Regions from separate parts of the Homo sapiens genome. Here regions 2 and 3 are each linked to region 1. The links come from fine-mapping of genetic effects on gene expression. A gene starts in region 1. Each other region holds a variant in brackets. All regions are shown on one strand. Distances are between the middles of the regions.

Region 1 (8,183 bases):
GTGAACCATATCTTCTATTCAGTTCCGACTGTGATTAGGAACCATGGAACCCTCACATTGGCTCCGCTCCACACGTCTGAAATTGGAGAGGATGCAGGTGGCTGTGTCACAGACTGCCGACAGTCATGTAAAACAATGTGAGAGTGGCAGATGGTGTAGTTTTCCATGTGCCTGGGAGTGAAACTAAAAAAAACTGCACTGAAACACAGAGAAGAGTCCACCACTGTCATAGTTGTATGTGTCAACTTAGGCTACCCAGTTATTCAATTAAACACTAACCTACATGTTTCTGTGAAGTTATCTTGTAAATGTGGTTAACAATCAGTTAACCTTAAAAAAAGATTCTCCCTTATGTAGATGGGCCTTATCCAATCAGTTAAAAGGCTTTGAGAGCAAAACAAAGGCCTCCCTAAGGAAGAAGAAATTCTGTTTCAAGACTTCAGCATCAGCTTCTGCCTGAGAGTTTCCAGCCTGCCCTACAACCCTACAGGTTTCAGACTTGCCAGTCCTCACCCTAGATATATATAGATATATATCTAGATTTATATATCTGGACTCTTTCTCCGATATATGCTGAAGAAAAGACTGGAAGTTGAAACTGGAACTGTCAGAAAAGATGTAGAAAGATTTCCAAGAGCAAAGCAAAAGCATTTCTTTTTTTTTTTTTTTGAGACAGAGTTTTGCTCTTATTGCCTGGGCTGGAGTGCAATGGGCGCGATCTCGGCTCACTGCAACCTCCGCCTCCCGGGTTCAAGTAATTCTCCTGCCTCAGCTTCCCGAGTAGCTGGGACCCACGTCCGGCTAATTTTTTGTATTTTTAGTAGAGACGGGGTTTTACCATGTTGGGCAGGCTGGTCTCGATTTCCTTACCTCGTGATCCGCCCACCTCGGCCTCCCAAAGCGCTGGGATTACAGGCGTGAGCCACCACGCCCAGCTGAAAGCATTTATTGTAGTGAATATGGCTAAGAAATTTGAGGCACCCAAGGGAGGTCTTCAAAGCCTGCAAAACACAGATAAATTTTTATAGACAAACACTAAGGAGACTGAATGTGGACAGAGCCTACAGCCAGCTGGGTTAAAGCTCATTTTTAAGGTGCTAGGTGGGACCTGTGACTTCCAGGGATGCTCTAGCCTGACCAGCATGGAGAAACCCCGTCTCTACTAAAAATACAAAATTAGCCGGGCGTGGTGGAGCATGCCTGTAATCCCAGCTACTTGAGAGGCTGAGGCAGGAGAATCGCTTGAACCCGGGAGGCAGAGGTTGCGGTGAGCCGAGATCGCGCCATTGCACTCCAGCCTGGGCAATAAGAGCAAAATTCTGTCTCCAAAAAAAAAAAAAAAAAAGTTTTGGTAACCTATTTTAACATAATTAGTTTTCTTTTGAAATCTTACATATTTATCTTTTCTTTCGTGTATTTAAAAGTATTATTCTGAGATAGAGTCCAGAATCACCAAGCTGCCCTTGGGGTCCATAGTACAAAACCTAACGAGAAGATCCCTATGCTATTGCCTAGGGAGTAATCCATAACCTAGGTCTACCTTAATATTTATGCAGAAAGAGCAGAATATTTTTTGTAACGGCTGTTGAAACCTTATGAACTGAAAACAAATATTTTCTAATCTCAAAGTGTATATTCTCAATATCAGGCAGTTTTACTTCTGTTTAGTAGACCTCATCTTATTTAAAATGCTCACCAGGCATGGGGATGATTTATTCTCAGAAATATGGACAAACTAAAACACACACATATGAGACGTTTGTTTGCTTTCAAAGTGAAAAAGTGAACATTCATATGAGTGTCCGGGTTGATGATGCTCCTTATAAAGCTGTCAAATTCTGAGATCAAGGCCCTGCAGTAGAAGCAGCATGCAGTGAGGAGGCCTAGCACAGTTTCGCTTAGTAAAATATTTGAAGAAAAAAAAAAAAAGACCCACAGAGAGACAAATGAAAACTCAGACCACGTCACCGTACAACGGCTTCCAGTTTCCTACAGAATACCAGCCAGAGTCCTTACAAGAGCCTGTAAAGCTGGCCAGAGTCCTTACAAGGGCCTATAAAGCTGGAGGTGGTCTCCCAGGATCTCCTATTCCTCTCCACTGAGCACCGGCCTCCTCAACATAACTCCCAAGCCTGCTTCCACCTCCAGGCCTTTTCCCTAGCGATTTTTCCCTGTTCCAGATCACTCATTTCCCCGATATCAGCATTTATCCCTCATTCATCACTTTCACTGCTGGCCTTTCCTATCCTCTTTCCCTGTTTTATTATTATTTTTCTCCAATCGCTTATCACTATTATTTTGTTTATTTAATGCTTTATTATCCGCTTCCGCCACTGCCATGTAATCTTGAGGGCAAGGGTCTCTCATGTTTTCTTCACCGTTATCTGCAGTGCCTTGAACACTAATACTGGTTGAATGAACGAACGCATTAATGGAGCGGTGATATTGGGGCAGAGAGGATGCAGGGCTTGCTTTTCACCGCCATTTTTCAGCCGGCAGAGACAGACCGAGAAAGGAATGAAGGCCACGGGGCGTGTGCAGAAGTAGCTACCAGAGAGTCCATGCGCTGCGAGCCTGGACCAGCGGGCAAACGCGGCTTACAGGCGTTCACCCAGATATTACGGGTACAACCTAGTTTCTTATGAAATACCTCGCCCCTAAGGTACGCGCAGGGCCAGTGGCGCAATGGATAACGCGTCTGACTACGGATCAGAAGATTCCAGGTTCGACTCCTGGCTGGCTCGGTGTAAGCAGGGTCGTTTTACAACTTTCTGACTCCGCAGGAGTAAGGAAATTCCTGCAAGATAAATTTGCCTGGAAGACTCAGAAGCAAGAGGGGCAGCTCCCGACAACATATGGGGTTATCATTTCTTTGCGGAGCATTCTGCCACTGACCACGTGGTAACGCCAACTACGCCAGAGAAACGCTCGCCCTACCCAAGTTGTGCCCAGCCTTGCCTGGCCATTTTGGCCGAAGAACGAAGGACCGTTCAGAGATTAAATTAAAGTCTCTATTGTGTTCTTCCCTATTCAGTCATTTGTAGAATAAATTCTATGGCTTCAGTTTGAACACTGGAGGGGCTGGGTCTGAGCTTTTCATTGGTTTTTCTGGTTTGAGAGGTCGGTACAGAGACGCACGCGCACATCAGCAAAACACGCACTTGGAACGAAGAAACACGGAACTAGGCAGGAAGAACTATTTACTCTGAAAAATAAGCCCTTAGTGGGTTTCCGTAGTGTAGTGGTTATCACGTTCGCCTCACACGCGAAAGGTCCCCGGTTCGAAACCGGGCGGAAACACGTTTTTTTTTCCTCATCTTACTACGAAATTCTTCCAGTGTGTATCTTTTAAAGACTTTTTCAGGCTGTCATAAATTTCCTGTCTTCTTGTCTTGCTAGATCGGGGCAGCAGTGCTTAGGGCGGGCCTCAGAGGCTCACACACGTATCGCCAGGGGGAGAACCAGCTCTCTCCGGCTTGGACTCGGGGCGGCTCCCCGCCTGCAGCCCCGGAAGCGCATCCTCACCTTCCCTCGCCTTCCTGTTCCTGGCGGAGCCGGGCTCCGCTCGTCTTCTCTGTCTTAGGGCTGGTGCTGGCCCTGCCCACGCCTAGGGCTCCGGCGCGTCACGGGCCTCAGCTGGGATTCCCGCGCCCCTCGGACGGCCACGAGACTCGGGTAAGTGCCTCACAGACTTTGTGCGCTACCCCGGAAAATGAGGGGCGTGGTGGGGGGGGTCCCGCCGCCCTCCGTATACTTAGGACCCTCCTGCCAGCTGGCCCCGGTCATGATTAGGGGCCTTGGGCCCCGTCAGCCCCGCCTGTCTTCCCGTCTCCAGAGTAATCGCAGCATCTCTCCTGAGCTCCGAGTGTGAATCCCTGGGAAAAGCTGAATCCAGAGGTGGGGTCACAGAGAGCCGCAGGCCCGACCGGGATGAGAAGTCCTAATCGGCGTTCTAGGGGCGTTCTAAAAGAAGGAAGGAAGGGGATTTGAAAGGATTGCTCCCGCAGGGCTGTGGCCTTAAAGAGGTGGTGACTGGCAGGTTGGACTGACCTGCCGTGGGCTCTCCCTTCCTCCCCAATTTACCTTCGAGAAACCCTCGTTGAGGAGACACCCAAGGGCTGAGTCCTCCTCCACTTTGACCTTTTGCTATTCCATCACAAAGAAAAAATGGATCCCAAAGTTAAGAAATGGACCAGCACTTGTTTAGAATCAGGACTGGTGCCTTGGTGTTTGGCCTCTTACCTCTGCCACATGGCTTGCTTACAAGTTAATCGGATTAATCAAACGCTTTTATGAGAAAGTTTTGTTGTGTCACCTGGCAGCCTCGGGTGTTCCCTAAGAGGGATTTCTTTCTTAGATGTATTACTACTTTTTCTAGGGATTAGCCAAGCCTAGCCTCTCAGATCATATTGCTCCAGGTTCCCTCAAATGACTAATAAGAATGTGATGTGTTTGTTTTTGTTTGTTTGTTTTTGAGACGGAGTCTCACTCTGTTGTCCAGGCTGGGGTGCAATGGTGCGATCTCGCTCACTGCAACCTCCACCTCGATTCTTGTGCCTCAGGCTCCCGAGCAGCTGGGACTACAGGTGTGTAACACTACACCCGGATAATTTTTGTATTTTTAGTTGGAGACGGAGTTTCACCATATTGGCCAGGCTGGTCTCAAACTCCTGACCTCAAGTGATCCGCCCGCCTCGGCCTCCCAAAGTGCTGAGATTACAGGCATGAGCCACCGCGCCCAACCGAATGTGATATTTTTATGACCATGAGAAAAGAAGGGCTGCATTCTTTGGTGGGTCCGCAAAATTAAAAAAAAAAAAAAAAAAAGAAAAGAAAAGAAAGAAAAGGACAATGTTAATGAGCTGTTTTCTTTTTATCATTTTCTTAAACAGGCTGCTTGGGTAGACGTTGACTTGAAAGGTCCATTCTTTTGTCATCTTGCTGGTTCCCTTAACAAGACAACACCTTGGCTAGCAAGATAATATCTTGGTTAGCAAGACAATAAACTTGGGCATGTGCTCAACAGCAACCTGTCTAATACATTTTCATTTAAAATCCCCTCTGTACTACTCAGAAATATAAGCAAGTTATTATGGTGCCCAGAAAGGGGGCAAAGGTTCCAGGGTCCTAGGAGATGACAAGGATTTATCCTCTTCATCTTTCTCCGATCCCAGTTAGCAGGAATACTTTAGCCTGGAAGGTGAGTGTGCCCCTAACCAACCTTTACAGATGGGTGACTGTTTGGGAGCTTATGGCTCACTCCTTCTCTTTAAAGCAGATGCATTCTGGCAAGCTGCAGCAGCAAACCTACCCTTTTAGACACCCTGCGTTTTCTCATCTTTCCTTTCTACCCCTGCATCTCCCAGTCTCTCTCACTTAACCTCCGTGGAAACTCATGCTGCGTCTCTAATACTTTGGAAGATGAAGAACAAACGCCCTGGAGAGTGACTGACACCATGTGACCTCTTGCTTCTGTAGCACACTGCATCTTGCCTGTGAATCTTTTTTTTTTTTTCTTTTTTTTTTGAGACCGGGTCTTGCTCTGTCACCCAGGCTGGAGTGCAGTGGCACAATCTTGGCTCACTGCAACCTCCGCCTCCCAGGCTCAAGTGATTCTCCTGCCTCAGCTTCCCAAGTAGTTGGGACTATAGGCATATGCCACCACACCCAGCTAATTTTTGTATTTTTAGTAGAAATGGGTTTCACCATGTTGGCCAGGCTGGTCTTGAACTCCTGACCTCAAGTGATCCACCTGCCTCCACCTCCCAAAGTGCTGGGATTACAGGCGTGAGCCACCACGCCCAGCATTTGCCTGTGCATTTTTTATTGTATTTTAATTATATCCTTTATTCTCTCCTTCCTAAGCTTGGTGTTCTTAACTTTCTTCCAGATCTTCCCTCCAACCCCCAAACACGATCTCTCCTTAAGTAAGAGGCAGGGAGGGAGAGGGGAACCTTCTGATTTCGGGGTGGGATTGAGGCTAAAACCCAAGTTAGAACTACCTCCCAGAAACCCAGTTCCGTATCCATCGAGTGATCAAAAAGATGCTGCTAAAATGTGCCTTGTGTTTGCTAGGGATGAGGTGAAAATGAGTATTGAATGAGGTGGCATTTTGGTCCATGGATTTGCTTGCTATGAAAGAGAAAAAACATGGAAAAATATATTTTGAGAGCTGGGTGAGACCCCCAAATTAATCTAATCCAAGATGTTTCCCTAGTCATTACATTCCTTTTTTTTTGAAACAGAATCTCACTCTATTGCCCAGGCTGGAGTGCAGTGGCGCAATCTCGGCTCACTGCAACCTCTGCCTCCCGGGTTCAAGCAATTCTCCTGCCTCAGCATCCTTAGTAGCTGGGATTACAGGCACGCACCACCACCCATGGCTAATTTTGTATTTTTAGTAGAGATAGGGTTTCACCATGTTGGCCAGGCTGGTCTCGAACTTCTGACCACCTTGGCCTCCCAAAGTTCTGGGATTACAGGCGTGAGCCACCACGCCCTGCCTGAGTCACTAAATTCTTACACTGTTCCCTCCTATGTTAGTCCGCTAGGGCTGCCGAAACAAGGTACCACAGGCTGAGTGACTTAAACAACAAAAATTAATTTTCTTTGACTTCTGGAGGATAGAAGTCCAAGATCAAGATGTCGGCAGGTTTGGTTTCTTCTGAGGCCTCTCCTTGGCTTGCAGATGGCCACCTCCCACTACATCCTTAGATGTGTTCCTCTATGTTGTCTGTATCCTAATCTCCTCTTCCTATAAGTACACCAGTAATATTGAATTAGGGCCCACCCATAATACCCTATTTTGCTTTTTATTTCACTATTAGTTTTTTTTTTAAAGCTATTTTTGCCAGTTAATTTAAACATCATGATCTTCTTCTAATGATAAAAATGCAAGTCTTCATGCTAACAAAAGGATTGGAAGAAGGATGAAGCAGATGTTTCTTCTCCCCTACAGCAATCTGGTTAAATGAGGAGTTAAATTGAGAGCTTTCATGAGAATTTCAGTCCAGTTCTGTGCAATGAAGACGAGTGATTCAAAACTTTCACTAACTTGCTCTGTTGTTTGTAATATAATGTTATTGGAAGAGTTATTTTAACAAAGGGGAACTGTTATATTTCTAAAACTTTTAAAATTGTTGCCATGTCTTGGGAAAATAACTTCAGTATCTGTCTTGATAATTTCTTGCCCTGATGATACCATTGAAAGTCATTTCTCTATGTTTCCAAAAGTTGTACAATTACTAGTAAGATTTATCTGCCAGTTAATAATTTTTCTTTTCTTCCACATGCATGAAGGAGTATTTGTAATGACTTTTATATTTTATCATTAACATTATTTTTTTGAACTCTTAAAATGCGTATTTTTTTTTTACATTAATAGACTTCCTTTTTTCAGAGCAATTTTTGGTTTACAGAAAATTGAGCAGAAGATACAGAGTTCCCACATACTTCCTTTCCCCCACCTCAGTTTCTCCTAAGTTATTAACAACTTACACTGGTGTGGTACATTTGTTACAAATGATGAACTAATATTGATAGCTTATTATTAACTAAAATATATAGTTTACATCAGGGTTCACTCACTGTATGAAGTTCTGTGGGTTTTGTCAAGTGCATAACATCTACCATTTTATAATATATGCCATTACAGTAGCATACAAAAGAGTTTCATTTACCTAAAAATCTCTTCTGCGCCACCTCAAATAATTTCTTCTGAGTTAAAACCACTGTGTGGTGAGAGCTCCTTCCTTTTCCAACCTCCTTGTCCTTTATGGAAATGGTAAGAGCTTTTACCCATCTCTCTGGTCCCTTTTCATTATGTGTGTATCTGTCTCCCACATTTGTAAGGTCTCTAGAGAGTCAGTGACCTGGTCTCCTAATCAGCTTCCTAAAGGTGAGTTTCAAGAATTAAATCCGTATTTATATACTCAGATACAGCATCCAGGCAGTGGCCTATTTTTCCTGATTTTATTTTGTCACCTGCTGTATTTTGGCCTTTGACATGTGGAGATCATGGCCCCCCTACTTCGGATGGACTTCAATGGATCTAACTCGAAGAAGACTGAACCCAGGAAAAGAGACTGTGTGAGCATTCTCACACCAGGAAATGGGCTGAGAAACAATTTTGGAGTGAGATGGAAGGAGAATGGTATGGAGTATCTATTCTTAGGGAAATGTGT
Region 2 (8,183 bases), 22 kb after region 1:
ATAATAGGTGTAAGGTATTAGCTTTTTGGGTTGAGAAACTTGATGTTACATGTTTTCCTGCCATTCCCAGTGGCTGCAGCAGTATGAGAGAAGAATGGCGGGGAGGAAGTCAAAAAGATATGGAGCCTTCTGGGCTTGTAAGGACTTTAGATTTAACTGAGAGATGGGAAGTCTGTGAAGATTCTGAGCAGAAGAGTAACAGAATCTAACTTACCTTTTAAGAAGATAATTCTAACTGCTGTGTTGAGAAAAGACCTTAAGGGCACAATGATAGAAACAAGAAAACCAATTAAGAGGCTCCTGGTAACAAAAAGTAATAAGAAAGATCAGAGTGCTAACAGGGGAAGAGGAGAAGTGGGTCTATCTGGAAGGCTGAATCAGTAAGATTTCCTGGTAGATTTGAATGGGAGCGAGAAGAATAGTCAAGGATAACTTTAAGGTCAGAACACCAACCTTATACATCGATACCAATGAATAAAGTGTTAAGTGGCCCAGTGTATTTTTTAAAAATTGCCCTCAAACTTGGAAAGACTGAATTCACATGAAATGTTCTCTACTATATAATCAGAGCAAAAGGGGTTCAATGACAACAAGAGTTATATCACTGTGAAGACTTGATATATCAGGTCTGCAGCCCACATCATCTGTAAGGAGCCCCAGAATATGGATATTGCATTGAAAGAATGCTCACCTCTGAGCACACTGGAGACACAGTGACAAATTACCACTGTCTGTCCTCTGCCATCCAACCCTTCCTTTCTTCTTCTTCTTCTTTTTTTTTGTAGATCTCCCTATGTTGCCCAGCCTGGTCTCAAATCCCTGGCTCAAGGAATCCTCCCCCCTCGTCCTCCCAAAATGCTGGGATTACAGGCATAAGGCACCACAGGCCCTTTTTTCTTTACTCAGTAACCTAAATATTATCAGTAATTTATCACTTGCTCCATGTGATATGTTATATCCAGTTTTAAAATGATTCTATATTTTATCTACTTAGATAAATGGCACTTACAGTTGGGCACAGGAAATCATGAGTATTAAACTGGACGGGGCCAGTCACAGTGGTTCACGCCTGTAATCCCAGCACTTTGGGAGGCCAAGCTGAGTGGATCACTTGAGCTCAGGAGTTCGAGACCAGCCTGGCCAACATGGCAAAACCCCATCTCTACAAAAAATACAAAAATTAGTTGGATGTGGTGGTGCTCACGTCAAGTTCCAGCTACTGGGGAGGCTGAGGAGGGAGGATCGCTTGAACCGAGGTGGTGGAGGTTACAGTGAGCCATGATTGCACCACTACACTCCAGCCTGGGTGACAGAGCAAGACCCTGTCTCTAAATAAATAAATAAACTAACTAACTAACTAGATGGACTCCCTAGGATTTGGGTGTATTGTTGGTATATACACCATGAAACTGAGAATTATGAGTTAACACAAAATGGATGAATTTGACCACAGTAACTTTTCTTGAGTACACTGAGACTTGACTGTTCTCTAAGTCTACTTTATAAAAGATACAGTGTCTTTCAAAACAATTGACAAACACATTTTTATTAAGCACCTTTTCATTGCTGGACATTTAATAAAAATATGAAGATGATATAGTCCCTGCCTTCCAGAAAGTTGCCATCAAGACTACTTTCAGTGATCGTTTCTATGCTTTGTTACTAGAGAAGGTTCTCTGAATGTATAGAGCACTGCAAGAAAAAATAAATAAAAAAGAAAATTGCCATATACCTACTGGGTGAATGTGACTGATTTAACAAAAATTACATCCACAGCTATATTTTAATTGTCTGGCAATAGGAAATGAAGATGCAGCCAGGTGCAATGGCTCATGCCTGTAATTCTAGCACTTTAGGAGGTCAAGGCAGGAGGACTGCTTGAGGCTGGGAGTTCAAGACCAGCCTGGGCAACATAACGAGACCCTGTCTCTGTATTTAAAAAAAAAAATTCTTTTTCAATAAATACAAAAATTAGCTGGGTGTGGTGGTGCACACCTGTAGTCCCAGCTACTTGGGAGGCTGAGGTGGGAGGATCGCTTGAGCTCAGGAGGTTGAGGCTGCAGTGAGCTGTGACGGAGCCACTACACTCCAGCCTGGGTGACAGAGCAAGACCCTGTCTCAAAAAAATTAAATAGGCCGGGCGCAGTGGCTCACGCTTGTAATCCCAGCACTTTGGGAGGCCTAGGCGTGCGGATCACGAGGTCAGGAGATCGAGACCATCTGGCTAACACGGTGAAACCCCGTCTCTACTAAAAATACAAAAAAATTAGCCAGGCGTGGTGGCGGGCGCCTGTAGTCCCAGCTACTCGGGGGCTGAGGCAGGAGAATGGCGTGAACCCGGGAGGCGGAGCTTGCAGTGAGCCGAGATCGCGCCACTGCAGTCCCGCCTGGGCGACAGAGCGAGACTCCGTCTCAAAAAAAAAAAAAAAAAAAAAAAATTAAATAAAAAAGGATAAAACATTGTGCATTGCTTTATGCTTCTGTAAATAATTCTAGGGTTTGAGTGCTAGAAATAGCATCAAAAAATGTTAGTGGGGCCAGGCGTGGTGGCTCATGCCTGTAATCCCAGCACTTTAGGAGGCCGAAGCGGGTGGATCACCTGAGGTCAGGAGTTCGAGACTAGCCTGGCCAACATAGTGAAACCCCATCTCTACTAAAAATACAAAAATTAGCAGGGTGAGGTGGTGGGTGCCTGTAGTCCCAGTTACTTGGGAAACTAAGGCAGGAGAATCATTTGAACCCAGGAGGCAGAAGTTGCAGTTAGCCGAGATCGTGCCACTGCACTTTAGCCTGAACAACAAGAGCGAAACTCTGTCAAAAAAAAAAAAAAAATTAGCCTGCCGGGCATGATGGCTCATGCCTGTAATCCCAGCACTTTGAGAGGCTAAGGCAGGTGTATCACCTGAGGTCAGGAGTTCAAGACCAACATAGCAAAACCTCATCTGTACCAAAAATACAAAAATTAACTGGGTTCGGTGGCTCGCACCTTTAATCCTAGCTACTTGGGAGGCTGAGGCACAAGAATCGCTTGAACCCAGGAGGCAGAGGTTGCAGGGAGCCGAAATCGCACCACTGCACTCCAGCCTGGGTGACAGAGTGAGACTCCGTCTCAAAAAAAAAAAAATTAGCCTTGTATGTATACATGATTTTAAATATCGACTTAAAAGCAATCTAAAATGAAAATTGAAAATATTTGGGCCGTCTAATGTATTACAATATGAAATGCCAGCAACATCTACGAAATCCTTTTGCCAAAAATATTTTAAGTTGAATTGAATCAAGTTTCTAGACATACCTTCTAATTTATAGAACATAGAGGATCAAATGCAACAAAACTATGAATCAAATGGTCTTTAAAAAGTCAATGTTATAAAAATATTAAGAGACTAAAGACATTACAGTCACATGTAATGAGTGACTCTATACTGAATTCTAGTTCAAAAAAATAAATACATAAATATATTCTTGGGATAACTAGAGAAATTGGGTCATAAGCCAGTTATTAGACACAATGAAATTACTGATACTTTTCCTAGGAGTAATAATAATTTTGTGATGTGTAGAATGCTCTTACATGTAGGAGTGCTTGCTGAAGTGTTTAAATGGTAAAGTCATCACATCTGTCACTTATTTTCAAACAGCTCAGCAAAAGAAATGTACATGCTGTGTGTGTCCATACACAAGAAAGAAAGATTGATTTAAAGCGAGTATGGCAAATACTAGCAATTGTTGATTGTGGAGTGTATATATTGTTCACTGCAATATTATTTCAACTCCTTTTTGTAAATTTAAAACTTTTCATGGTAAAAACCCTATAGGGCGAAAATAACCTCCTTCAAGAGCAACATAAAAAACATGACACAACTAAAAACTGTGATAATTGTGTCCCTTTTGTCATTTCTGAGAATCCCAAAACATTGTCTTGTATTCTTTTGTAAAGGAAGAAAGTTTAGTCAAGAGTTTATTTTAGGGACAAGCCTAAGAACATGTCCTCATTTATTATTTCTGTTTTAATCCAAAGAGCTTCTTCAGATGTCAAAAGTCATGTAAAATTTGTGTATGGATGAGATTATACAGCAAGGCAAGTTCCTAGCTAATGATTCACATTAAGGGGCTGAACATACTGGGTTTGAAAATGGCTCAGGCT[G/A]GGCGCTGTGGCTCATTCCTGTAATCATAGCACTTTGGGAAGCCAAGACCAGCCTGGCCAACATGTTGAAACCCAGTCTCTACAAAAAATACAGTAATTAGCCAGGCGTGGTGGCAGGTGCCTGTACTCCCAGCTACTCGGGAGGCTGAGTAGGAGGATGGTTTAAGCCCAAGGAGGCAGAGCTTGCAGTGAGCCATGTTCATGCCACAGCACTCCTGTAGCAGGAGGAGTCATGGACAAAATCCCTCAGACACTGGATTGGGGAAGGAAAGAGCTTTATTCAGCTGGGAGCATCGGCAGACTCGCGTCCTAGAAACCGAGCTCTCCGAATAAGTAATTCCTATCCTTTTTAAGGGCTCACAACTCTAAAGGGGCTGCATGAAGTGGGGGTTATGATCGATTGAGCAAGCGAGGGGTACACGACTGGGGGCTGCCTGCATCAGTAATCAGAACGAAACAGAACAGAACAGGGAGTTTCACAATGCTTCTTCATGCAATGTCTAGAATCTATAGATACCAAAAGTGGTGAGTTCAGGGGTTGAATTTTAACTACCAGGCCCGAGGCGCGGCGCCGGGCTGTCTGACTATGAATTTCACTTCTGCCTATTCTTTTAACTTCTACCTTTTCAGCAAACAAGAAATTAAATATAAGACAATATGAGGAGTGGTCTCCTCTTTCACTCCAATCTGGGAACAGAGCCAGACCATCTCAAGAAAAAAAAAGAAAAAGAAAAAACAAAGAAAGAAAAGAAAATGGCTCAGTAAATTGGATTGGGATTGTTGCGAAATTTGAGAAACTAGGTATTAAAGCATGTACAGTGGCAGCATCTTGTATGCACTATATGCTAATAAATAATTACTTAATATTGGTGAGGTTTGGCAGGGTAATGGAATATGTGTTAACTGAAAGAGGACAACAACATCTAAAAAAGGCAAAGTTCTTACCAGCTGAGAGCTGAAAACACAGCTAATATTTAATTATTCATAGAAGGAAAATAAAATGAAGAAAAATCTCGACTGATCTATCTTCTAATGTTCTGAAATTTACAGCTCATTGCTTAAAGTAGGCCTGGTAAAGAGAATGGAGTCAATGCTCTTTTTTTTTTTTAACCAAATAACATCTATTAACATCTCAAGGAACTATTGATACTCAAGGAACTAACATTTAGCAAAAATGTATTTAGAAAATATGGTTCTTTTCAAATGTAAATTATTAATTGTGACAGGCAAACAACCAGGAAATAACAGAAAAGACTGGAAGAACTGGTTAAAGACACATCTAATGCCATAAAAGTTCACAAGACTACTTACAGATAAATAATAGTTTATTAACAATCTTGTACTTTTAAAATTCACACTGGTAATTCTAAAATGCTTCAAGTGACATCAGAATCACCTAAGATGTGGGCATGACAATCAATTAATTAATTTATAATTAATCTAAGAAAAGCGATATACATTTTAGAGACCAGGAAGACTAAAGTGGCTTCTGAATTACTGTGTTTATGAACCAAGAACTGGATTATGAAGACTTTTATAAAATCATCTTGAGGTAGGGAAAAAACCAACATTCTGGGAGTACGATGCCCATTTTTGTGTGTGTTTACAATATTGTGATTGCTGTAATAATCAGGCAGTGAGAATACTAGCCCTTCATCTGATAAGCCTTACCCTCAGGTCCCTCTTAACCGTTTATAAAGCTGGTGATATGGTGTGATATGGTGTGGCTGTTTCCCCACCTAAATCTCATTTTGAATTGTAGTTCCCAAAATCTCCGTGTGTCATGGGAGGGACCCAGTAGGAGGTAATGAAATCATGGGGGCGGTTGCCCCCACGCTATTCTCTTCATGGTAAGTTCTCACCAGATCTAACGGTTTTTATAAGGGGCTTCTTCCTTCACTTGGTTCTCAGTCTCTCTCCTGCTGCCCTGTGAAAAGTAGGCACCCTTCTAGGGGCATGCATTATCACGTGAAAGTATACCAATGTTAAATGCAGAAACAATAGACTCTAAGGAGACTTCAGAAAGGAAAAACAGTAATATAAAAGAGGTCAGAAAACGGATACCTCTCACTGACACCTATTAGACAAGTACAGGACGAGATCTTGACAGGGAGTGGAAGGATATCCTGCCCTATCTCATTAGGGTTACTCTGTGAGGCAAGACCAGGAGTGGGGATAGGTCTGGAACAGCCATGTTGTAATAAGCTTTCCAAGAAAACGTCACTACATTATTTTGGAGGACAGTATGAAAGGTAATGTAGCTGGGAGAATTGGGGATAATCAAAAAACAGGCTATCTCACTCAGCTTTCTTCCTATTTATTTATTTATGACACAGGGTCTCCCTCTGTTGCCCAGGCTGGAGTACAGTGGCGCGATCTCAGCTCACTGCAGCCTCGACTTCCCAGTGAGGCAGAAAAATAGGGCCTGGAGTCAAGGAACATAAGGCCAACTCACACTTCAGCTATAACAGGAAATATCCTCTCCATAGGGCATACACGGAGTAAATTACTTTGTAACTTTAATTCATCCTCTTCATTTACATAGGGCGTACCCCAAGTAGATGATATTTAAACTCACAAAAACTCTGTAACGGGGCCTTTGAGCTCCTGTGCTCAGCCCCACTCCCACACTGTGGAGTATACTTTCGTTTTCAATAAAACCCTTCATTCTTTCCTTGCTCTGTTTGTGCGTTTTGTCCAGTTCTTTGTTCAAGACGCCAAGAACCTGGACACCCTCCACCATTACCACCATTAACACCAGGCTCTAGTGATCCTCCCATCTCAGCCTCCTGAGTAGCTGGAGCTGTAGGCACGTGCCACCACGCCCAGCTAACTTTTGTATTTTTTGTAGAGACGGGGTTTTGCCATATTCCCCAGTGGTGGCTCACGCCTGTAATCCCAGCACTTTGGGAGGCTGAGGCGGGTTGATCACGAGGTCAGGAGTTTGAGACCAGCCTGGCCAACATGGTGAAACCCTGTCTCTACTAAAAATACAAAAATTAGCTGGGCGCGGTGGCGGGCGCTTGTAATCCCAGCTACTAGGGAGGCTGAGGCAGAAGAATTGCTTGAACCTGGGAGGCGGAGGTTGCAGTGAGCCAAGATCGGGCCACTGCACCACTCCAGTCTGGGTGACTGAGCAAGACTCCGTCTCAGGGGAAAAAAAAAAGTGATTCTGATCAATCGCTTCTTCAAAATTCCTAACTAAGCATGGGCAACATAGTGAGACCTATGACTCAACATACTGAGTCTCTACAAAAATACAAAAACAAAATAAACCAGCCCATTAGCTGGGCATGATGATATGTGCCTTAATCCCAGCTGCTCAGGTGGCTGAGGGGAGATGATCCCTTGAGCCTAGGAGTTCAAGACTTTAGTGAGCTTTGATCCCACCGCTGCACCCCAGCCTGGACCACTGCACCCCAGCATCAACAACAGAGTGTGACCCTGTCTCGAAAAAAAAAATCCTCTGTAAGGACTATAACTCCATCTAGGAGGCTTTCCTTAATTAATCTCAACCAAATCTGATCTCTTACATAGTCTAAATTCTTGTGTACTTAGCTTTTTTTGTGGTACTGTTTGGGACTTGTTTTAATGATTACATTATTACTCGTATGCTTCCTATGGTGTTATTCTTGAATTTTTTATACTCTAATTTCACTAAAGATAAGGCCCAGCGAAAAGGCTTTCAAAGTACTCTCTGTGGGTTCCCCTGTTTGAGCCTGTGGGAGTAAGGCAGTGGACAGCACACTCTGAGAACTGTGCGTTACAAATTCTATTTAATTTGATATTCACAACTATCCCCTTAGGATCTGTATTACCTTCATTATCATCATCTCCATTTTGTATAAGGCATGAGGAAGTTAGGGAAGTCATACTACTAGTGAGACATAGATTCAAAGGTGGACTAAGTGGCTCCAATACCTCTCTGTGTTCTTTCCATTACATCATACATACGAGTAAATAGCCTGTCCATGTTGCTGTAACTTCTACTACCAAAATTCATTATTTACTTTTAAATTGTGTTCAAAAGGGTCTA
Region 3 (8,183 bases), 56 kb before region 1:
GTTCTGGGAGTTTGGGAATAAGTCTGAGGGCATATAAAGGATTGAGACTGAGTGACTTAGGAGTGTGAGAGGAAATATCTTGATGTTGAGAACAGGGTTGATGTGGAGGGGTATTCTCTGTGTTATGCATGTAAAAAGAAAAAAAGGAAAAAAAAATCATTACTGGGAAAGAAAACACCCCAAGCTGAAGTCCAAGAAAGGTACACAGAGGAAACACAGAAACAGTTGTGTTAGCAGAAGATGACATGAAACCCAGCTGACAGTGAAATTAGGAAGTTGCCTTGGAATTTCAAGAACTTGCATTCTCAAGTTTATGGTTCTGTGTCCAACAGAGCAGCAAAATCCAGCACTTCTTCTTTTGAGTCTCCATATCGTGCTAACAGAAAGACAAGGGGTCGGGAGATGCAGAGATGAGGAGGAGCTCAAGAGTGACAGTGTTGAAGAGATTCTGAGCAGAACTCCACAGTGATCTGTGTAACTGATATCCAACCCTGATCCCTCCATCGTCTGCCTGTCCAACCCTTGCTTAGATCTCAATGTAACTTCACTTCATTGTGTCCAAGAAGTTCTCTGATCTCTTCCCCTGTGGATTTAGCAACCCTCCATTTTAGAGGCATTTTCAGGAATCTTTTTGCAATGCATCATCTCTATGAAAGCTCAGCTTCCTGCTCCCCAGGCCGATTTAGCCTAACATCCCTGGGCTACACCACTCCGACAGACATGCTGTCAAATTAGTCACCATCTTTCACACAGCCCATCCCCAGCCCACCCTTCACATATACAAAACCTCTTCTACCTACAGATTGTGTTTCTGTAATAGGAATTAGCTCATGTGCTTTTTGTTAATCCTGGAATTATGACAGCATTATAATGTCGGTGTTCCTTTTACTCATACTCAATTTTCTCCCAAATTAATGTGTTATGCCATTGAGGAAGAGTTATTTGAGTACAAAATACACCAGTAGCTAAGCTCAGAAAACCACAGAGAAATGCACTAGCATATGTAATGCCTTTTTGCCCCATGGTTTTCCTTTTGGCTTAAAAGAAACACAAGACCATAGCTTTGTAGATCACATTTTGTACAAAGATGACAACTTCTCCACCTTTAGCCTGTTGTCACAATGTTAGCCCTTACTCCTGTTGGTGTCCTAGAGCCAGCCAGCTTGCACCAGTTTAGGAGAGGTGATTGTTAAATTTTCAGGAAAGTAGTGAGCAAAAATCACTCATAGTAGGAGTATTTACACCACAGAAATTGCCAAACAATACTAAACAAGGCATTTCTTCCTGCATACGATTTATTAGCCCACCATTGCTTTGTTCCCAAATTCAGCAAACTCATCTTTTTGGTATACTTCTTTTTGAGATGGAGTTTTGCTCTTGTTGCCCAGGCTAGAGTGCAATGGTGTGTTCTCAACTCATCGCAATCTCTGCCTCCCAGATTCAAGCGATTTTCCTGCCTCAGCCTCCCGAGTAGCTGGGATTGCAGGCATGTGCCACCATGCTTGGCTAATTTTGTATTTTTAGTAGAGACGGGGTTTCTCCATGTTAGTCAGGCTGGTCTCAAACTCCCGACCTCAGGTGATCCGCCTGCCTCGGCCTCCCAAACTGCTGGGATTACAGGTGTGAGCCACCACACCCAGCCAGTATACTTCTTTCTATTAAGCTACATTCACCTACCTTCAGGTAAAGCCCTACATTTACTATTAAACACGTTTAGTTATTAGGAGTTTGGGTAACTGTGCTAAAAGTATTACTATCATTGATGTTTTTATTAGTGTTCTTTTTTTCTCTTTTTAAGGGTTTTTATGGACAATTTGGTGGGCATTAGGGAATGGGTGCTGCTGATTGGTTGGCTTTATTAGTGTTTTGGAAACAAACCTGCATGGGTTTTTAGTTGTCTAAGCCCAACTCTATTTTTTTGTAAGCCCTGGTGTTTTTGTTGCATGATTTTGCAGAATTCAAGGTGTTTGTTGTTTTTTTTTTCCAGGAAAATAATATGTTGGGTTATTGCAGAACACATACTTTATTTTCTCTAAAATCCCATAAATGCTTGGTTCCAGAATTTCAAGCATCGTTTTTTTGTTTTTGTTTTTGTTTTTTTTTAGAGATGAGGAAGTTGAGGCCAAGAAAAGTGAAAGTATTTAGTTAAAAACACATAGTAAGTGACTGAGCTGCAAGTAAACCAGTCTCCCAGCTATTCATGCAGTAAAATGACTGAACTACAAATGGGAATGAGAACAGATTAAACTAATCTGGAGCCAGAGTTGTCAGAAAGTTCTCTAGGGAAATCCATGAGCATGTCCCCATTGGTTCAAGGATTTCTTATGCAGAGGGAGAGAAATAACGTGATTTCTCTCACATGAACTCAGGGGCCAACTTTGGATAGAACTGAAAGCTGTACCTGAGAAACAAAGAGAAATATTCCTTCCTCCTTCATTTTATACTATTTCCAGCACCAAAACCTTTTCTTCTCTCTGCCTGCCCCCTTCCACACAAACTGTCCAACTCCATTCTCATTTCCCCACTGAGGTGGATGCTGTGGTGCCCTGCCCTGGTCACTCCGTGTTGGACTGAGACACACAATCAACCAGCTGCAGAGAGTGTTGGTGGCTCAGGGCCCTCAGCTGACTCCATACCATGAATTGTTAAAGAGCCAAAGAGAGCCCTGTTGCCCAAGGTTATTCCACCTCTCAGTGAGTGGACCACATCCAATGACTGGAAAACATAGGTGTAAAGGTCCTGGACCCCTTGCACAAGGTACACAACTCTGAAGGGTCACCCCAGTTCCAGAGTTCATTGTGAGACTGCATTATATTTCAACTTTTCCTTCTGTCTATCCTCTTTCCTTAACTTCCTCAAGGTATTGATGCTGCGGGGCTCTCCAGTGGATGTCCTATAGTCTATTTCTCTGGAACCACCAAAGACAGGGATTCTTAAAAGTGTGGTCTGACCCTAAGATTCTTTCAGGGGATCCATGAGGTGAAGACTTTTTTTTTTTTTTTTTTTTGAGATGGAGTCTCACTCTGTCACCCAGGCTGGAGTGCAGTGGTACGATCTCAGCTCACTGCAACCTCTGCCTCCTGGGTTCAAGCTATTCTCCTGTCTCAGCTTCCCGAGTAGCCACCACTCCTGCCTAATTTTTATATTTTTAGTAGAGATGGAGTTTCACCATATTGGTCAAGCTGGTCTCAAACTCCTGACCTCAGGTGATCCACCCATCTCTGCCTCCCAAAGTGCTGAGATTACAGGTGTGAGCCACCGCACCTGGCCAAGACAATGTTTATAATGATACTAAAATGTTATTTGTGGCTGGGCATGGTGGCTCATGCCTGTAATCCCAACGCTTTGGGAGACCAAGGCAGGCAGATCACTTGATGCCAGAAGTTTGAGACCTGCCTGGGCAACATGGTGAAACCCTGATCTCTACAAAAAATACATAAAATTATCTGGGCATGGTGGTGAGTTCCTGTAGTCCCAGCTACTCAGGAGGCTGATGTGGGAGGATCACCTGAGCCTCGGAAGTCGAGGATGCAGTGAGCCATGATCACGCCTCTACACTCCAGCTTGGGTGACAGAGTGAGAACTCTGTTTCAAAAAAAAAAGAAGCGAGAGGATCACTTGAGCCCAGGAATTCAAGACCAGCCTGGACAACATAGTGAGACCCCCATCTCTATTTTTAAAAATAAATAAATAAATTTTTTTTAAGTTATTTGCCTCTTTTACTCACATACTCTCACATGTGTGCATTGGAGTTTTCCAGATGTTGAAGACATGATGACATCATCCCTCTGACACCTATTGGAATGTATGTCACAATGTGTATTATTGTGTTTAAAATGCTGTGTTTTAAGGGCCGGGCATGGTGGCTCACACCTGTAATCCCAGCACTCAGGGAGGCCGAGGCAAGCCGATCACTTGAGCCCAGGAGTCAGACCTGGCCAACATGGTGAAACCTTGTCTCTATGAAAAATAAAAAAATTAGCCAGACATGGTGGTGCATGCCTGTAATCCCAGCTACTAGGAAACTGAGGCAGGAGAATCACTTGAATTTGGGAGGCGGAGGTTGCAGTGAGCC[G/A]AGATTGTACCACTACACTCCAGCCAGGGCAACAGAGCGAGACTCTCATTTAAAAAAAAAAAAAAAACCTGTTTTATTTATTTATTTGAGACAGGGTCTCAATCATTCGCCTAGGCTGGAGAGTAGTGGTGCCATCTAGACTCACTGCAACCTTCACCTCCCAGGCTCAAGTGATGTTCCTGCCTCAGCCTCCCACGTAGCTGAAATTACAGGTGCATGCCACCACACATAGCTAATTTTTGTATTTTTTTGTAGAGACAAGGTCTCACTATGTTGCCCAGGCTTGTCTCGAACTCCTGAGCTCAAGCGATCCACCCACCTTGGCCTCCCAACGTGCTGGAGTTACAGATGTGCACCACCACACCCAGCCCAGTTTTAATTTTTAAATGCTAAGTGTTGATAGATATAACTCACATAAATAAAAACTCTCTGGGATTCTCAATTATTTTCAAGAGTATAAGAAGGTCATGAGACCAAAACATCTGAGAATTGCTGCTCTAAGATAACCAAATCTACCCTGGGAGGAAAAGGCTGAGGTTTTAAAGCACAAGTTATTTTCAAATTATATTTTTAGACATTAAACACGTGTGCATGCACGCACACACACACGTAGAGAAGTCAGTGAGAATGGTTAAGTGAGGACTTCTGAAAATCCCTCCCTCCATAAAAGCAGTAAACACTGGCAAAGATTGGCAGAAAAGGCCAGGTGCAGTGGGTCACGCCTGTAATCCCCTGCACTCTGGGAGGCCAAGGCGGGCGAATCAACTGAGGTTGGGATTTCGAGACCAGCCTGACCAACATGGAGAAACCCCATCTCTACTAAAAATACAAAATTAGCCAGGCATTGTGGTGCATGCCTGTAATCCCAGCCACTCAGGAGGCTGAGGCAGGAGAATCTCTTGAACCCAGGAGGCAGAAGTTGCAGTGAGCCAAGATCGTGCCCTTGCACTCTAGCCTGGGCAACAAGAGTGAAACTCCATCTCAAAAAAAAAAAAAATTGCCAGAATCAACTTTCTCAGAACTCTGTAAATTAACCTAAGGCTTGCAGCAATCAGAGTGAATTTTATTCAAGAAAAATGGCTGAACCTCAGTAAGAACAGTACGTTTTATAGGCATTTTAACATGTCCTATTACACTACCACCACCCCACCACAGCTCTGCAGTAGCCTAGAAACCACCCCACAATCACAGTGAAAAACAGCGCCTGACAGTCACTGGAGGGAATAGAAAGGGGTTGGGGCTCCTTCAAAACCCCATTCCTAGAGAATTGTCATTACTAGACATGCCTGGTTGTTCCTTGTGTAGGGGAGGGAAAAATCTGCTTCTCTTTACCCCTCTAGGTTATTTGGCTAGGCTATTAATTAAATTTATCTAAAACAGATTAATAGGAGAAAAACCATTTTAATTACATGCATATGTACAGGAGTCCCTCAAATCTCAAAATATGAGACTCAAAGAAGGGCCGGATGATTGAAGTTAATATAGCATCCTGAGCTACAGAAAGGAGGAAGTCAGGGCTTCTGGGAAACGATGGAGACAAATTATGGGATGGTGAGAGAAGAAAATGTATGGTGAGTAAAGGTTACCTTGTTACAGATAAAAGTTCCCCAAGTGGTAAAACTTGTCTCAAAGCAGTTCTCTTCCTGGTATAAATACCTCTACTAGTAAAAATTTCTTTTATAGATGTAAATTTTTCTTTACAAAAGGGGTGTTTTATAATTCATTTCAGACAGTTGAGGGGAAGGCAAGGAGATTTTTCTATGTTGGCTGGTCTTTAATTTCTTTTAGCTCAAAAAGATCAGTATGCCAGGGTGGCATATTTTGAGATGGCATATTCTGGTCTCCTGCACTCATATTTTTGGATGGTGTGTCCTGAAACTCAGCACCCAGAAGACGTCACTTGCAAGCTTTGTCCTTATTTGATCTGACGCAAAGCTCACCAAGTGTGAACAGGGTTTTCTCTGGGAGCATTTGTTGACAATAACCAGTGACAATTGTTTAACATCACAGCTGTCTGAGATGGTGGGTAATCATTGGAGCAAACAATAACTAAAAAGCTTAATAGGAAAGGCTGAGGAGTGAAATATATACAGAGGGCTTTGAAAATCTCTGACGTATTTCTTGGATTCTAGAAGTCCACACATATACATAGGGTTGTGCACATGCCCAGGGCTGTGTGTGTGCTCTGGAAAGACCTGAGAAGGCCCTAAGTTCTCACTCTAGCTGATCTTGAGGCTCTGTGTGGCCTCATCCTTCACAGGATGGGGACCCACTGCCACCACCACCAAATTCCTGGTCTCAGAGTCATGTAGAGAGGGCCTGGCCATCTTGACTACCACAGCACAGCACACTCTACCCCATGCCTGGTGGTAAATGAGCTCTTCCCTCTGGTCACATAAAAGGACCTCTTCCAGTTGCCCCATTGACACCCATTTTAGGCCCCAAACCCACCTCTCTTCCCGATTAAACTGTTGCCTTAGTAGCTCATTAGCTTATAACCATAGGGCGAAGTCCCGTCTCAGGGAAACTATTGCTGCCACAGGGTTGTCAACCAAGGAGAAAAGTGTGAGAAAATGACATGTTGTAAACCACTTGCTTTAACATCAGGGTGGCACATTCAACCTAATGCTTGATTGACACTGTACGCTTGGACTTACAGTCCTCTCTCTATATATATGGGGGGGGGGTGGGGGGAGAGAGAGAGAGACAGAGAGAGAACTACGGGGCCTCCTAAGGAGAAGAGGAAACCACAAATGAAGGTCAGAGACAGAAGTGGATAGAAAGCTGGGAGAGGGAAACAGCTGTGAGCCTGATTAAATCCCACCATGACAGCTATGAGGCCCAGGAGTTGACAGCCCATTTCCACCCAACCTCAAAGATTTCCAGTCCACGCTGGAAATCTCCAGGCCTAGAACTGGGATGAAGGAATATTGTACTCTAAGTTTCCAGGAGAACAAACTCATGATAAGCTGACTTGGTTCAGGTGATCCTAGAATAACTAAGGCTGTAGGCATGGTTACCCATGACCTGAGTTTGAGCTTACTGGCAAGCAAGTAAGTAGTGAACCCGGGCTATCATTAGGTTCATCCTCAGTAGCTGGAGGGGACTAAAAGTGAGCCGGGCATCTAAAGTGATGGCTTCAAGGGTAGTGTTTTGGATTCAAACCAATTCAATAATGCATTTTTGTAATAATGACCTGGAAAAAAAATGTTTTAAAAAAATAAACTTATCAATGTTGGTCAAAACCATCATTAATGCAGTAGTCAGATCTGGAAATATTTAATAGGAAAGTATAAAAACCGGTCTTTTATGGCTGCAGCTCTAGAGGAGTTGTATGCTTTTTTCATTTATTTCTGGTATTGCTGATACTCTTTGAACAGTTTTGTTTAAAGAAAGGGTACAACACTAAGTTTCAGGAAGAGAGAAATTCAGCCGTGGTCTCGCTGGTTGTATTTTTAAAAAGTCATTTTATTAGACCATTTTCACATTGCTATAAAGAACTATTTGAGACTGGGTAATTTATAAATAAAAGAGATTTAATTGACTCACAGTTCTGCATGGCTGTGAGGCCTCGGGAAACTTACAGTTGTGGCAAAAGGTGAAGGAAAAGCAAGCACCTTCTTCACAAGGCAGCAGGAGAGAGAGAGGGAGGGGTGAGAGGGAAAGTGTCACACTTTTAAACCATCAGATCTCGTAAGAACTCATTCACTATCACGAGAACAGCATGGTGGAAACTGCCCCCATGATCCAATCACCTCCCGTCACGTCCCTTCTTCAACACATGGGGATTAAAATTAAAGATGAGATTTGAGTGGGGACACAGATCCAAACCATATCAGTCTTATCTTCATGGTGTCTCTGTTTCTTCATCTGTACAAAGAGAGTTAAACCTGAGGACTTTTTAAAATGAATTTGTGTGTGCATGTGTGTTTAAGTTATAGAATGTTTCTATTCACTCTTTTAGAGTTCTCATGACAACCCTGTGAGACAGTTTATTTATTTTATTTTATTTTATTTTTTTCTTTGAGACAGAGTCTCGTTCTTGCCCAGGCTTGAGTGCTGTGGTACAATCATGGTTCATTGCAGCCTCAACTTCCTGGGCTCAAGC

Evidence for each region. PIP is the estimated chance that this variant, and not a neighbour inherited with it, causes the effect.
Region 2: its variant is the best candidate, but not a certain one, in a credible set for the expression of HMGN4 in whole blood (TOPMed, PIP 0.68).
Region 3: its variant is the best candidate, but not a certain one, in a credible set for the expression of HMGN4 in whole blood (TOPMed, PIP 0.53).

What each region holds. Positions count from the first base shown.
Region 1 is chr6:26,534,827-26,543,009 of GRCh38, forward strand. HMGN4 (high mobility group nucleosomal binding domain 4) reads left to right here and starts at 3,540. Exons shown (of 2, transcript NM_006353.3): 1 at 3,540-3,675. It overlaps TRR-ACG1-2 (tRNA-Arg (anticodon ACG) 1-2), which reads left to right and starts at 2,672; the gene lies at 2,672-2,744. It overlaps TRV-CAC1-6 (tRNA-Val (anticodon CAC) 1-6), which reads left to right and starts at 3,228; the gene lies at 3,228-3,300. RefSeq lists enhancers at 1,237-1,736, 1,826-2,490, 3,751-4,160 and silencers at 2,524-2,817, 3,211-3,260.
Region 2 is chr6:26,557,327-26,565,509 of GRCh38, forward strand. No RefSeq gene overlaps it. Among named protein-coding and RNA genes, the nearest start is that of TRK-CTT2-4, 4.9 kb to the left of the region's middle. The variant G/A (reference allele first, on the strand shown) is at 4,148.
Region 3 is chr6:26,478,745-26,486,927 of GRCh38, forward strand. LOC285819 (a long non-coding RNA gene) reads right to left here and starts at 3,765. Exons shown (of 4, transcript NR_038992.1): 1 at 3,728-3,765; 2 at 1-376. LOC107986583 (a long non-coding RNA gene) reads right to left here. Exons shown (of 4, transcript XR_001744057.3): 4 at 7,905-7,945. The variant G/A (reference allele first, on the strand shown) is at 4,076.